Regions from separate parts of the Homo sapiens genome. Here region 1 is linked to region 2. Evidence: fine-mapped expression QTL. Tissue or cell type: lung. Region 2 holds a variant in brackets; the other region holds the start of a gene. All regions are shown on one strand. Distances are from middle to middle.

Region 1 (8,181 bases), 35 kb before region 2:
ATGGGGTACACCTGGTGGGCAGAGTTCTTGATCTTCCTCATAAGCCAGTGGTATAAACAATTGTTACACAAACTGTGGTCTGGTATCACCTGGAAGCTTGTTAGAAATGCAGACTCTCAGGCCCCACCCCAGAACTACTGAGTCAAATTTTGCATTTTAACAATATCCTCATATACACGGTAATGTTTGAGAGGCCCACACTCAAAACATCCTAAACTTTTCTCACCACCCACCTTCTCAATTACCTCTGATCTAATTGTCTCTTGTTTGATCGTCATGACAGAGCCCCAGGTGACACATATGTACTTTAAGGTTTGGGAAACACTGATTTAGTTGTCCTTACCCAATTGTCTTGGCGAGGCTGTAGACCCACATGACACAGGGCACGCCGATATCTGCATAATAAATTATCTGAAGCTACCTTTTTCAGGTGACAGTATAACCTGCAGGCATTGGATGCTTTGTAGTCATTCAGTTGAGACAGTTGAAAACTGAGCCCCAGACTAATAGTGTAAAGCAAGAATACCATGGACAGCGCTCCAGCACTCACTGTTCTTGGTGTGAGACCCTTGTAGGTCAAAACCTTGTCCAACCTGGCGGCCCAGGACGACTTTGAATGTGGCCCAACACAAATTTGTAAACCTTCTTAAAACATTATGAATTTTTTGCGATTTTTTTTAAAGCTCATCAGCCGTCCTTAGCGTAGTTTAGGTGTGGCCCAAGACAGTTCTTCTAATGTGGCCCAGGGAAGCCAAAAGATTGGACACCGCTGATGGAGGTGGTGGAGCGCCCACAGGGCCACTGGTGTAAGACATGCTTGGATCCATCATCACCTCACTCTGGGAATTGAACTTGTTAATTGTCCCCTCTGGGCCTTAGTTTCTTTCAGTTGTAAAATTGAAATGACAATACTTATCTAACATAGCTTGTTACTGGAAAAAAAATCACTATACAACACAAACAGGTGTTCAATCAATATTAGTTCCTTCTTTTTTCTTGTCTTATAACAACTCAATTAAAGTTAGTTAACAAAAAGTCCTTGAAAAAGAAAAAGAAATTGCCTCTAGTTTGGAGCTAATGTCCATGCGTACGGCACCAAAGCTGTCAAAATTAGTGGTGGTGGTGGTAGAAGGGGTGAAGTAGAGATGCCTAGCCTAGTGCCCAGAGTCTTCAAATTTTCTCACTAACTATAGGAGCCTCAGGAGGAGAGCTGGGGTGCAGACATGCTCAGCTCCTGCACCTTCAGCCTCAGTAGGGAGGCCCTGCATAGCTGCTGTGGCTTCAGCCTGTGACTTGGCTCTACACTAGGGATTCTGAGGAGCCATTCTTTGCAGAATCAGCCTCCTTAGCAACTCTTGTTAACCAAGCTGTGTTTGGTTCCTTTCTACTGAGTTTATCCCACCACCACCACTCCTCTGGGGCTGAGTCCCTTGCCCCTGAGCCTGAGTCTCCCATCTTTCTACAGCTGGCTTGCACCCCTTTGTGGAGCAGCTTTTCCCTCTGAAACTCAGTCTGTCTTTGGATGAAGATTTGGCTGAGGATTGCATCAGTCGGTGCCTTTACAGCTAGAGCTGCTTTCCTTGCTCCCCAAAGGTTTGTTCTGAGGTTCTTCTTTTTTATTTCAGATGGAGTCTCACTCTGTCACCCAGGCTAGAGTGCAGTGGCGCGATCTCAGCTCACTGCGACCTCTGCTTCCCAGGTTCAAGTGATTCTCCTGCCTCAGACTCCCAGGTAGCTGGGGTTACAGGTGCTCGACACCATGCCTAGCTAATTTTTGTATTTTTTTTTTAGTAGAGACACAGTTTCACCATGTTGGCCAGGCTGGTCTCAAACTCTTGACCTCAAGTGATCTGCCCACCTCCCAAAGTGCTGGGATTACAGGCATGAGCCACCCCACCATGCCCGGCCTGTTCTGACATTCTGATACCAAATATTTGTCCAACTCAGATTTGTTGTCTCCTCAGTCTACTCTTCCTCTTTTCATCTTATACAGCCCTAACAATAATCATCTTTTCTCTTCTATGCCATGGATCTAAAAGTTAAAATTTAAGATGCATCAGATTAAGATGACATTTTAGTTTCTCTTGTGGAATTTTATTTTATTTTTATTTTTATTTTTATTGAGACGGTGTCTCGCTCTTGTTACCCAGGCTGGGGTGCAATGGCACAATCTCTCCTCACTGAGACCTCCGCCTCCTGGGTTCAAGCAATTCTCCTGCCTTAGCCTTCCGAGTAGCTGGAATTACAGGTGCTCGTCACCACTCCCGGCTAATTTTTTGTATTTTCAGTAGAGACGGGGTTTCGCCATGTTGGCCAGGCTGATCTCGAACTCGTGACCTTAGGTGATCCACCCACCTTGGCCTCCCAAAGTGTTGGGATTACATGTGTGAGCCACCTGTGCCCAGCCCACATCTGCTTCTTAAAGATGTTCACTGCAGTGTCTCTAAAAATGTAAACCATATTTGAACCAGAGACCAGATGATGCTCAACAGTTGTCTGACACTACCAGGAAGCAGCAGTGGGCCCCTGGCCTGCATGAGTGGGTGGGGCAGGTCACTATGAGTGAGAGTGAATTGTAGTCAGTGGCTTTCTGGGATAAAAATACTACACTTCCTCTGGGTTCTAACTTGTTTTGGGCATAAGGTTTGTCAGGATTGACTCTCCCTTTTGCCTTCCATATTCTTCCACTTAAGGTAATTTATGCCCATCCCCATGTCTAGACCTAGATATGCAAATAATGTGATCCCAAATATCAAACTTATATTCTTTAAATATTGGCTCAGTGTTCACTGAGAGCAAAGACTGAGTGCTCTGTGGGAAGGGCACAGAAGGAGCATGGAGAATCCCTGGTGCCAGCCCTCCTTGTTCCCTCTTCCAGAGCACTGCAGCTTTGGTCCCAGACTTAACTACTCTGCTTCTTGCCGACAAGGCCAGGCAGCCTTCTGGCCTCTCTCCTTGAAAGACCGGCTGGTGACCACCTCAGTCACCCCAGGAGGCCGTTGGGTTTCACTCCTTGCAACCTACTTATGGGAGCCTCACTTAGAACCACACACATTACTTCTTCCTGGGAGGTCACATTTTCCCAGGAGTGTTTGGGGAGTCTCACATGCTGGTGCCTAGGCATCAGCTGACTAGCCCCTCCCCCCGTCTCGTTGAGGCGACACGTCCATATTTATTATTTATTAACAAGACGACCACACTCCTTGCCTGTTCTAAGGGGCGGGTGTGTCAGGAGAGGAAAAAAAGGGGGAGTCCTTTTGCGCCTCAATCTCTGCTCCATAGGCAAGAGCCTGGAGGTTTCTTTTACCCATCCTTCCACCTTGAGAGTGATGAACCTCCACGGCCCGAATCCTTTTTCAGTTCTTCCAAACAATTTAAAACTATCCATGCTCTTGTTAAAATCTGTGCATATATTACAAGCTTCTATTCTTTGTACTTATGAACTTTAATAAATGAAGTTAAAGGAAAAAAATACACTGAACACACACACAGTTGTTAGACAGATTTTCTAAAACAAAAGAGGGACCCCCGTCCCCCAACCGAAACCCTGTATCAGCGAGTTCCCTGATAGTGACTTCAAAGAGGAAAGACTTGAACTGGGTTTGTCAGAGAAATCTCTCTAGGTAGAGTATTTTGTTATTTGCCAAACCAGACATCTCGTCTCTGCGAACACCTGGTCAAGCCCGAGGTAATTGTGTAATGTAATAAGAGTGTTTTTATACATTATGCAAATACGCAGCGCTTTCCTGATGGCCAGAACAATCTGATTCCCGACTTTAATCCTGGCCCACGCTCCCAGCCCCCGCCTGGTGGCGTCTCCTGCCCGCAGCTCCGCGCCGCCCCAGGTGAGTCCTGCGCGTTCCCTACTCTGGGGCCCGCGGGAGGGGCTGGAGCGCAGGCGGAGGGCCGGCCGGGGTAGGGGAGGACCGGGATCCGGGCCCCGACTGCAGCTTCCTCGCGGTGGGGCCGCATTTCCAGGCACCTCCGCCGCCCTTGCCCGCGCGCGGCGAGCGGTTTTTGGGCGTGCCGCCCGGAGGCGCGGAGCCTGCCCGGCGCGCCTCAGCCCTGCAGATCCGGCCCCGGCGGAGGCGGCCGGACCGCGGAGATGCGGGGAGGGGGCAGGGCGCGGGGTAGGTGACTTTATCCCGCCTCTGTTTCCCTGCCCCGGGGAGCAATGACATCACGCGGCCTTCTCCAGGCGCCGACACAAAGAGCGGGGCGGAGAGGCAGCTGCGGGGGGAGCCGGCGGCCGCTGCTGCCGCCCAGGGCTCTGGGGCCCCGCCGGCCAGGCCCGCCGTCCGCGGCCAGTGCCCTTCCTCCTCCTCCTCCTCTGCCGCCGCCTCCTCAGTCGCCGCCGCCTCCTCAGTCGCCGCCGCCCGCGCCGCCCGCGCCCTCCGCGCGCCTCTGAGCCCGCGCCGGGCCGCGCCGGCCCCTTCCCATGCGGGCGGCGCGGGCCCTGGGAGGGGCGCCCGGAGCCAGCCGCGCAGCATGCACTGGGGGGTTGGCTTTGCTTCGTCCAGGCCGTGCGTGGTGGATCTGAGCTGGAACCAGAGCATCTCCTTCTTCGGCTGGTGGGCCGGGTCCGAGGAGCCCTTCTCCTTTTATGGGGACATCATCGCTTTCCCTTTGCAGGATTACGGTGGGATCATGGCAGGGCTGGGCTCCGATCCCTGGTGGAAGAAAACCCTTTACTTGACCGGGGGAGCTTTGCTGGCCGCAGCTGCGTATCTGCTCCACGAACTCCTGGTCATTAGGTGAGCCGGAGAGAGGGCCCCGCACAGGGGCGCAGAGAGGGGCACCTGGCTAGGGCAGGGCTGGCGCGAGAGGGGCCCGTGCCAGCCCCTCGGTCAAGCTGCCCAGATGCCCAAGCGCCCTGCAATTACCTTTCCCTAAAGGCATTTGTGGTCACCTGGCCGTGAGGGGCAGTTTAGAGTTGAAAGGAGAATTAAACCGGTGCTGGGAGGGAAAAACATTTGTCTCCCAAAATGCTCTGGGTCACTTGTCGTTATCTATTAAGAAATGGCCTTAGGAGGATCTAAGTGCAGTGTGTTTGCAACAATAGAATTGGGCCCTGCAGAAATAGGTTACACTTTTATGAAATGCCTTGTTTATAAGTAATAATGCTGGAATATTAACTGCTAACCTTATCTTTTACCTAAAGGTTAGTTCTTCCCTAAATGTCAACATCAAAAGACTGAAAAATTGCAAAAGCTCCAGAAACCTGCGGGTCCCTGTTAAAGATGCATGACCAAGTGTAGTGGTGGGCAGCTTTGATGCAGCCTTAACCTGGTTCTCTGCTTATCTGGTATTGAACGCCAAGCACCATCTTCAGGCTTAGATGTCATTGTTGTGTGAGCAGTAGGACAGGCTAGCACATGGGTGTGTTGGGCACAACACGGAGTCGCCCAGTGCCGTAAACAGTTGCATCCGCTGCCGCAGAATGTTTACAAGATTGAGTTGGAAATACCAGAAAATGGAGGCCCCTGCTGTTGGTACATCCAGCCGGGACGAGATTTTTGTTTGGGTAGAGTAATACCACAGGGCACTGAGACAGTCGTTTGGCTAATTGATACATCAATTAATGGTTAAAATTTCCATGCATTTGAGCCTTCCGTCACTGGAAGATTACCAGAAGCCCAGTTTTCAATAGCTCAGAATGTCTCTTTGCCAGTATTTTCTAAAGTGAGAGAAATGTGTCCACACTGCCTTATTCCAGTGGAGGAATCCTACACAATAGGTTATAAACAAAGACAGTGATAGGTGACCTGTACTAGCCTGCAGGGATCCCAGGAGATTATTGTGATGGCCTAATGTAGGCATTTGGCCTAACGTACATATTTTGAATAGTTCCCATCTCTGAAAGGGTGGGAAATCATTTAGGTTTGGAGAAATGTATTGGTTTTCATATTATTTAGCCATATTTGAGGAAGTTTATTTTAAGCTTGTTGCACATTTAATTCTCTCAACACATTGCCTTGAATCTAGCTGAACCAAACAAAAAAATTTAAAGAGAATTATCTCTCTAGATTATTTGTTAATTGTGCTAGTTTTAGAACTGTATTTCAAGTTAGATTTCAAGCTACCTAAAGAACTAAAACATTTGGGCAGTAATTTAAATGGTAACCCAGTTGTTTCTCAGTTGTATTCTAGTCTAAAGCCTTTGAGGAGATCCCAAACCATGAGGCTTCTCAGCAGTGGAGGGAGTGAAGGCTTCACAGGACCAAGTTTAAAACAAAGCTTAAATGACCTTGCAGAAACAGTGTGGAGCTCAGCTGCCACTCCGGAGTAGGCCCTGCCCTGGCAGGTGTTGTCACTGGAGACTGGAGAGCTCTCTGCCCACAGATAGCTACTAACTCATTTAGGGGACTATATACCTCAGCACTGGATGCTTATTTGGACTAAGGAGTTTAATCCTAGGTTGATTCACACTTTTTCTTCCTTTTTTTTTTTTTTTCTTTTGAGACTGAGTCTCGCTTTGTCGCCCATGTTGGAGTGCAGTGGCTCGATCTCAGCTCATTGCAACCTCCACCTCCCTGGTTCAAATGATTCTCCTGGCTCAGCCTCCTGAGTAGCTGGGATTACAGGCGTGCACCACCGCGTCTGGATAATTTTTGTATTTTTAGTAGAGATAGGGTTTCACCGTGTTGGCCAGGCTGCTCTTGAACTCCTGGGATCAAGCGATCCTCTGGCCTCAGTCTGCTGAGTTGCTGGGATTACAGGCATGAACCATTGCACTTGGCTAATTTTTTTTTTAACTTTTTTGTGGAGATGGGGTCTCACTATGTTGCCCAGGCTTGTCTCAAACTCCTGGCCTCAAGAAATCCTCCCTCCTTGGCCTCCCAAAGTGTTGGGTTTATAGGTGTGAGCCACCATACTTGGCCAGTTTTGTTTCTGGACAAATGTTTGAGTTGAATTAGAAAGCTCTGAAGTAATGCAAACAATAAAAAAGGGCTATTTCTGAATACTTAGTAGGATGGGCTTTGCATGTGTGACTGCATTTATTCCTCACAACTGTTGTTTGTTCATTTCATAGATAAGGAAATTGCAGCTCAGGGAGGTTAAGCAGCTTGCCCAAGATCACACAGTAAGAGTAGTAGGATCTAGATTCAAATCAGAGCCTGCAGTTTTTAACCACTGCCTCTTAGAAAGTACCTACTTTGGCCCGGCGCGCGGCAGCTTACGCCTGTAATCCCAGCACTTTGGGAGGCTGACGCGGGCGGATCACGAGGTCAAGAGATCGAGACCATCTGGCCAACATTGTGAAACCCCGTCTACTAAAAAACAAACAAAAAAACCCCACAAAAATTAGCCTGGCGTGGTGGCACGCGCCTGTAGTCCTATAGCTACTCGGGGAGCTGAGGCAGGAGAATCGCTTGAACCCAGGAGGCGGAGGTTGCAGTGAGCCGAGATGGTGCCACTGCACTCCAGCCTGGCGACAGAGCGAGACTCCGTCTCAAAAAAAGTACCTACTTTGAAATCCGTTTTGTTGGAGGAAGAGGAAGGAAGAGAAATGTGGAGAACTGAAGCATTGCTCAGGGAAGACAGACCTGTATCAGGTGCCTTTCTTGCAGCGTCTAGGGGAAGAGGAGTGGAGGGGCAAAGGGAAAAAAACCAGGCAGGAAGGTCAAAGACCAAGGCTTTAGAGGTTACATGATAACTACCTCCACTTAAGGTGAAATCTAGGTTTCAATAGTCTTTATAATTTAGGCAGAAAACAAAACAAAATCTGAAATATGTAAGATAGAAAATACACCTTAAAATGACTACCCTGAGTTTCTGGCTATTGCAAACTCTTCCCCAGCCTACTTGGATTTTCTGCTGCATAGACATAACCTTAATCTATGACTGTGTCTCTAGAGTGGAAGAGTAAAGTTGACAGGTGAGAATTACTTAGGAAGTTTAATTAATGAATATAACTGAAGTAGGTTTTTGGGGTTTTATCCATGTTTTTTAGCACCATATTTTAAAATAAATATTGTTCCAACACACTACTTTGTTTTCCCTGAGTGGAGATAGCTTGGCAGCTATCTTAAATTCAATCAGGCTTTGGAAATTTTTGTTTGTAAATTGAATGACTAAGTACTAACTTCATTACCAGTGCTTATTTGCACTTTTGACACACGGGCTCAGCCTCTTCTAGAGCATTTAGTTGGCGAATCAACATCTGATCTCTGCAAACTA
Region 2 (8,181 bases):
GATTACAGGCGTGAGCCACCGCGCCCGGCCGGGTTTGCTTTTTAATCCTCATGTTCTTATGTCCCCCTTGGGGAAGGTGTGTGTGTTCATAGCAGATAACTATGTGTAATGGTTGCCTGATGCCTCCACATGCCAGAAATACATACACTGTTTATTTCTGAACACTCCCAAAAAAGAATGAGAGTCAATAAAGAGCAAAGAAGACATGAAAATCAAAAACAGAGAGGTGAGGTTTTTGGGAACCAGCGTGGCTAGAGGCAGGAAGCCTAGTGGCTGGCATATGGGTGTGGGAATCCTGGAGTCAGATCCCGGGTTCACATCTGGGGCATCACCGCTTACCAGCTCTTTGATTTCACACAAATAACTTGAGTTGTTCATTTGCAAAATGAGGTTCAGAACAATACCTACATCACAGTGGGTGGGGACTAAATGAAATGCTTTCTGTAAAGTACTTACTGCAGGGCCTGACCCATAGGAAGTGCTAAATAAATAGTTATTCTCATAATCACTGTCACTGATTTTGTATGTAACACAACTTCATTGGAAACATTGTTTTCTGGGAAAAATGTCTTTATAACAAAAATCATTTTTCTGATTTTAGAATTTATTGTAGAAATTTGGGAAGGCTCAGAAAAGCATAAGGAAGGAAAATAAGTCACTGCAATTTTTAAAAAATATATTTTCCCATCCCTCTCTCACTTCTTGTTGCTGTAATCTTCTAACCCATTGCTAACAACTGTTACCATTTTGGTGCATATGTTTCCAATATTTTTATGCATAATTTTGAATCATCTATATATACATATTTGTACATATATATTTTCCATTTCTTCTATTTTGTGTGTGTGTGTGTGTGTGTGTGTGTGTGTGTGTGTGTGTGTGTGTTTGAGACGGAGTCTTGCTCTGTCGCCCAGGCTGGAGTGCAGTGGCGCCGTCTTGGCTCACTGCAAGCTCCGCCTCCCGGGTTCACGCCATTCTCCTGCCTCAGCCTCCCGAGTAGCTGGGACTAAAGGCGCCCACCACCATGCCCAGCTAATTTTTTTGTATTTTTAGTAGAGACGGGCTTTCACCGTGTTAGCCAGGATGGTCTCGATTTCCTGACCTCGTGATCCACCCGCCTCGGCCTCCCAAAGTGCTGGGATTACAGGCGTGAGCCACCGCGCCCAGCCCTATTTTTAAATATTCTATACCATGTGATTCTGTGTGCTGTGTATCACCCTTGGTGCCAGGAAAACTGATAGAAGATTTATCAGACAAAACCCTGCTTTGTCTTTTGCCTTTTTAGTATTTCTGTTATCAGGCCTACATAGATTACAGGTATGACCTTGAAGTGGATGCAAAATAAGACAATGAAAATAAGAATTGTATAGTTGTGTCCCATGTTAACACAGAGATCCCCAGCTGTGGCCATGAGATACAAAATATGAATGGAAGATAGACTCTAGTACAAAGTGAAAGGAACACCACCCATTTGACAGATAAGAAAAACGAGGCACAGAAAGGTTGAATGACTTGCCAACAATCACACAACCACTAACAAGTGAAGCCCAGACTCAAATCCAGGCTGTCAGACCTAAGGCCCCTGCTGTTTTCTGACCTGACTACTACCTTGGTTTCTTAAGAATTGTGCTTTAAATACAGAAGTTAAGTTATGTCAGGATGATTTCTTTAGAACATTTTCTAAAATTGCCACGACTTCCACTGGCAAGTTAAAATGTGGTCTTCAAAGTAATTTTTAAGTACGTTTGATTAGGTTGCCCCTGGAAGCAGAGTACAGATTTAAATGTGGAGCATTATCACTGATTTAGAGATCCTGAGCCTTGTGAGTTGAAGCTGTGCCCTTCATCGGGAGGCTTGCTGCCCAGCCTCTAGGATGAAATGCTTAAGGAGAAATGATCTCTTTTTGGGGGCTGCTTCTGAAAGAGCGAAGTGGTAAATGGAATTTGTAAGTGGAAGTGAAAAAAAAAATCTGATTTCCAGCAAACTTCACTTGATTAATAAAAAATGTAATATACTTTTCTTTTTTTCCAGGCTACAGCATTTTATTGAGTCAGAAAATGGCTTGCGGAGTCATTATTTTTCAGTCTTTGTTGACATTGGATCAACACATTTTTAAGAACCAGACTTTTTAGTTATTTTAGTAAACATCAGTGTGACCTTGACTATGTAATAAAGAGTAGGGAGTTGCAAAGTAGTGCGTCCCTTCAAAGGCAGTAAAAATGAATCATTTGCTGCTTCATGTCACCTTCCTAAGCATGTATAATGACAGTGTGGTTTTGCTTTTCAGAATGATTGAATTTTGCTGTAGAATAAAACAATCAAGCAACTTTGTTTTCCAAGTATATAGCTATTTGGGTGATCACTTAGTTCATGGAAGGTGAAAATATTCTCAGAGAACAGCAGGGTTAAGCTTTTGTGATTAGTCATAGAAAATCTGTAGGTTGCTCTTACCCAGAAATGCCTTTGGGGTTCCATCCCTCCAGATTGGGAAGCCTATACCATGAAGCAGTGTTGATGCTCTTCAGGGAGCAGATGACTATAGCAGAGTCAGGGAAACTCAGAGACAGGCATGTGTTGAGGGAAAGGTAAAGAAAATATGGGTGCAATTATGCCTTGCAGTGTAGGTCAAAAACCTTGGAAAGGCAGGTGCCACATTGCGGCCCTCTTATAGCTCTGGCATGCTGAGAAAGAGAGAACTGGCTTCAGTGAGCTCAGAATCCAAAGACAAGGCTGGACTCTTGTAGGAAATAGGCAGGGGGAGGGGGATGAGTAGGTTAACACATGTAGAAGAGCTACCCTCTGGGGAGTGTGCCTTGGGTTGTTGTCAAACCCTTTCTGTGGTTTTATACACCTTATCCTGTGGCTCTCAAGCTTCTCCGAGCACCAACACAAGATTGCATTTTGATGCTTCTGGAAAGCAGCTTTCTTCCCAGAGCTCAGAGCTATTCAGGAATGTTAAGGGGGCAACCCCTTGTGGGTGGGGGGGGGCGAGTGGGTTAAAGCTGGGCCTGAGTTTCTTCTCTTGATCTCTCTACTGACCCCTTAAAGCTCAGGGTGGGGTACAGGGTGCTAGGTGGCTGGATTTGATGATACTGATCATGATGAGGCAGCACAGATTACTAAAACCTAATGTTTGTTTGCTTTTAATTGGATTTGTATAGATCCTGGGTGGTGATACAGCAGCTATCTCATGGGAAAAGTAGATGAATAATTGGTAAATAGAGTTGGTTTGGGAG[ATACAGTCATATAGAGG/G]GAGAAGAAGAAAAATACAGTTTCAGTTGTGAGGCTCAGCTGTGGACCAGTGGTGGTCAATAAATATCTGCTGGATGAGTGAATAAAAGAATGAATGAATGTCAGAATGCTGTTAGCAGATAGCCAAGCATGGACTCCAGGATCTGTGGATCTTAGGAGTGCTTTCTGAGCAAAAAATTTAAATTTGTAAATGTATTTAAGAGTAAGTAGGATCAGAAATAGTAATGGGCTGTGCAAGTGGAAACTGCGATGTTATTTTCAGCCACTTTTCTGTTGTTAGACACCTTAGGAGGAGAGTATACTTGTAATAATTAGAATTCAGGCAGAAGGGTAATTCCATTGACTTAGGACTGTGTGGTTAAACACATATGCCTTGAACAGTGTGCCAGGCTTTTTGTGAGGGGCTTAAGGGTTGGTGGTGAACACATTGGGCACAGCCCTGAGCTACCAGAGCTGCCACCTGAGGGAGATATTGCAGGTAAACATTTATAAAATCTCAGCACTTGTGAGGGGTGCCACTGTAAAGTGCAAAGTGCAGTGAGGAATTTTTTTGCAGGGGAAATGAACATGGTGGTGGTAGTGATGAAGAGGTGGTTCTGGAAGCCTTCTTCAAGGAGGTGACATTTACTGGTTTTTTTTTTTTTTTTTTTTTTTTTTTTTTAAGATGGAGTGTTGCTCAGTTGCCCAGGCTGGAGTGCAGTAGTGTGCTCTCAGCTCACTGTAGTCTCCGCCTCCCAAGTTCAAGTGATTCTCTTACCTCAGCCCTCAAGTAGCTGAAATTACAGGTGTGCGGCACCACACCTGGCTAATTTTTGTATTTTTATTAGAGATGGTCTTTCACCATGTTGGCCAGGCTGGTCTTGAACTCCTGACCTCAGGTGATCCACCTGCCTCGGCTTCCCAGGGTGCCGGGATTACAGGTGTGAGGCACTGCGCCTGGCCAAGGAGGTCATATTTAAGCAGCATTCTGAAAGATAAGCCCAAGTAAGGCAGGCATGTATGTAGGTGTGGGCAACAAGGGTGGGACAGTGAGTAGAATAGCGTGGACTAGAGAAGGAACATCATATGTAAACGGCCTGAGATGAACAGCAGCTGGGTGCTTTCAAGGAATGAAAAGGTGGCTAGTGTGTCTGGAAATTGTGTGAGAGCAGGAGTGGCATGAGGCAGTGGTGGCAGGGGCTGAGCTCACAGTCTTATGTGTAACATAAATAAATCTGGACTTTTTCCCAAGAGCAGTGGAAACCAGCAGAGGTTGAAAGTTGGGACATGGTGTGATCCTATATCCGTTTCATGTGCTGGAGGGGCCAAGAGTAGGTTTGGTGGCCCAGGGAAGAAGCTGTTGCCCAGGCTGTAGTGCAGTGACACAATCATAGCTCACTGAAGCCTTGATCTCCTGGGCTCAAGTGATCCTTCTGCCTCATTGTCCTGAGTAGCTGGGACCACAGGCGTGTGCTACCACGCCCAGCTAATTTTTGTATTTTTTGTAGAGACGGGGTTTTGTATTTTGTATTTTTTGTAGAGACAGGGTCCAGGAAAGATAAGATGGTGCTTGGATTATAGGCATGGTGATAGAGTTGGGCAGAAAGTTATGAATGAGAACTATGTTTTAGAGACAGAACTGAGAAAGTTTAGTGATTTGATGTGTATGTGTAGAGGGGGAGGGTTGTGGTGATGGAGAGGGGCGGGGTCAGGCATAATCAGGTTCTGGACATTAAAACTTAGTGGATGGCTGGGTGTGGGGGCACGTGTCTATAGTTCTGGGTACTCAGGAGGCTGAGGCAATGGGAATCGCTTGAGGCCAGGAGTTGAAGGCTGCAGAGAACTGTGATTACAACTGTGAATAGCCACTGCACCCCAGCCTGAGCAACATAGCAAAACCTCATTTCTGAAAAGAACCAAAAAACAAAGGACAAATAAACATTATTGATGAGGTAGCCATTCACAGAGTTGGAGGACACTGGAGAAGAGGGGAAGATCATGAATTTCAGGTGTGGGTATGCTGAGTTTGAGGTCCCTATGAGACAGACACATGAGTAGAGATGCAGTATATGATAAAGGCAGCCGTGATCAGTGGAGGAAAGACAAATTCATTCAATAAATGGTGCCAGGACAGGTGGCTAACCATTTGGAACAACATAAGTTCAATTCTGACTTCATGTCAGAATAAATTCCAAATGAATCAAGCATTTAAATGTGAAACATAAAACCATAAACATAAAACCATAAAGGTGCCAGAATAAAATATGGGAAACTTATAGAATGTTGAGCTTAGGAAAGTTTTTCTAAACATGGTGCCATAGGGTGAAACTATAAAAGAAAAGTTGAATTGCTTGATGACATGAGAAAAAAGAAAACCAACCTCCTGTATATAAAAAAATTGCCATATTTAAAGTTGAAAGGGTAAGCTGGAAAAATGTTTGCAACATGTGACAAAAGAATATTAACATTTGAAGAGCTTTTATAAATAAATAAGAAAAGTGAATACTTAAGGGGGAAAATTGGTCAGAAGACATATAAAGAGGTAATTTACAAAAACAATACAAATGATGAATAAATATATTAAAAATGTTCAACCTCTTTATTTGTTTACTTATTTTTGTTGAGACAAGGTCTCACTCTGTTGCCCAGGCTGTAGTGCAGTGGCACAATCATAGGTCACTGAAGCCTTGATCTCCTGGGCTCAAGCGATCCTTCTGCCTCATCGTCCCGAGGAGCTGGGACCACAGGCGTGTGCCACCACACCCAGCTAATTTTTGTATTTTTTGTAGCGATGAGGTTTTGCCATGTTGCCCAGGCTGGTCTTGAATTCCTGTGCTCAAGTGGTCCGCCTGCCTTGGCCCCACAACGTGCTGGGATTGTAGACGTAAGCCACTGCACCTGGCCTCAACCTCTTTAATATCAGAGAAATGCAAGCTAAAAAATGAGGCACTTCTCTGTCAATCAAATTGGCATATTTTGTTTTTGTTTTGTTTTTTAAATAATATGAAGGAGTATCAGCAGAGGTATGGGAGAGGCATTGACATATTCTTGTGGTAGGAGTAAAAATTAGTATGTAGTTTTAGTAGTTTCAAAAGATAAAATATCATATTTCTAACATTTACTTATTAAGTAATTCAACCTTCAGGATTTTTTTCCTAGGAAAATATTAGAAAGATTTAACTAGAAGGAGAATTCAATACTAAAATATTGCAACCTTACAGTTATTAATAGTATGGCTTTTTGGTCTGGAGTCTCTGATTTTTGTTTGAGATAGTAGCTGGAAACTTAAGCTGCTGTAGGCGCTTGCTCTCACTTTCCCTACCCTCTTCTCCCTTATGTTGTCAACTTTCCCTTTCTTCAGCTGGGAGTCTGAGGGTTTAACGGGTACACAACATGTATAAGTTGGTGTATCTTCAGACACCCACTTGTAGATCATTTGTGAATAATCTGCATGTCTCTCTATGAATGAGTGATACCCTTTCATTAGTCCTCTAATGAGGACTACCTAAAGAAATGATCACTACTGCAGAGAATGCTCTGAAGAGCTGAACAGTGTGCATTGGTGTCACCAGGTTGGAGTTCAGTGGACCGAGGCTGGACCTGTCTCCCAGAGTGTTCCCAGCAAACCTGTTCCGTGCTCCCAGGCAGCTGGTGCTTTCTTTTTCAGAGCTCACCTTGCACCCTCTTCTAATGGTTTGGTTTGAGTGTTTCCTCAGCTGGACTCTGTGCCAGGCCTGGCAGATTCCTCCTTTGTCTTGAGAGCCCAACTGAGTGCCTGGAACACATGAGGCATCCAGCAGATATTTATTGAACAAGAGTGTAAGGAGCAGTTTTGGGATTGTGCTTTTAAAAGAAAAATGGCCAAACTAGTGTGTTTCCAGAGGAGGCTGGTCAGGAGTAGTTAGTGGGGAAAAAATTTCATGTGAGGAATTTGAGGATACTGGGCATGGATAGTATGGAGAAGTAAAGCTATCAGGTAATATACTAACTTTTTTCAAATACTTAAAAGTGGCTAATGACTTAGTTGTCACTGTAGATGACAGGCATAAGAGGGAGGGGAGAAGAGACAGAGAGGAAGGTGAGATGTATATTTGGAGAAATAATAGCTTTCAACTCAGGGTAAGGCAGAATTTTAAGACAGAGCTGTCCACAATTGGGAGGACTTGTGGTGTGGCCTGAGCTGCTATTCTCCAGATGAGGTTGGATGACCACTGTCATGATAGCTGAGGAGGGGTCTTTTTTACAGATGGTGAGATGTTTAGAAATGGGAGGTCTTTCTAGTTCTAATGGTTTCATGATTTTATTTATGTATGTATGTATGTATTTATTTATTTATTTTTGAGACGGAGTCTTGCTCTATTGCCCAGGCTAGAGTGCAGTGGCACAATCTTGGCTTACTGCAACCTCCACCTCCCAAGTTCAAGCAATTCTCCTGCCTCAGCCTCCCGAGTAGCTGGGATTACAGGTGCCCACCACCGTGCCTGGCTAATTTTTGTATTTTTAGTAGAGATGGGGTTTTACCATCTTGGCCAGGCTGGTCTCGAACTCCTGACCTCGTGATCCACCCACCTCGGCCTCCCAAAGTGTTGGGATTAAAGGTGTGAGCCACCGTGATTGACTTCATGATTTTATGTTCACTCTCTGGGGAGAAGAGTAGAGTCATTTTATAAGTCATGAAACAAGGCAGAGGCCAAAGTAGAGATTGGTTGTCTCGAATTCTGTTTGCTCTGTTGGGTTGTGATTTATGTTTAGGCTGCTACTCACCCCTGCTGAAGTCTCAGTGCTTTAAAGCATTCGTGTTTACAGCACTACTCTACATCCATTGTTACTAAATCTATGCTTTGAACAATGAATCTTCCACTTCTTTTAAAATTTTTTTCTCTTTTTACTTGGACAGTAGCAAAATTGTTTTTGTTTTTAAGAAAGCTTTGGGATAGGCTGTTTTAATAC

What was found. PIP is the estimated chance that this variant, and not a neighbour inherited with it, causes the effect.
Region 1: it holds the start of FAXC, and the variant in region 2 is fine-mapped to the expression of FAXC in lung (TOPMed, PIP 0.95).

What each region holds. Positions count from the first base shown.
Region 1 is chr6:99,345,680-99,353,860 of GRCh38, reverse strand. FAXC (failed axon connections homolog, metaxin like GST domain containing) reads left to right here and starts at 4,187. Exons shown (of 6, transcript NM_032511.4): 1 at 4,187-4,754. The coding sequence starts at 4,489. RefSeq lists silencers at 3,838-3,917, 3,978-4,027, 4,098-4,157 and enhancers at 5,349-5,913, 6,804-7,304, 7,305-7,805.
Region 2 is chr6:99,310,965-99,319,145 of GRCh38, reverse strand. All of the region lies in intron 4 of FAXC (failed axon connections homolog, metaxin like GST domain containing), which reads left to right. Among named protein-coding and RNA genes, the nearest start is that of FAXC, 35 kb to the left of the region's middle. The variant ATACAGTCATATAGAGG/G (reference allele first, on the strand shown) is at 3,237.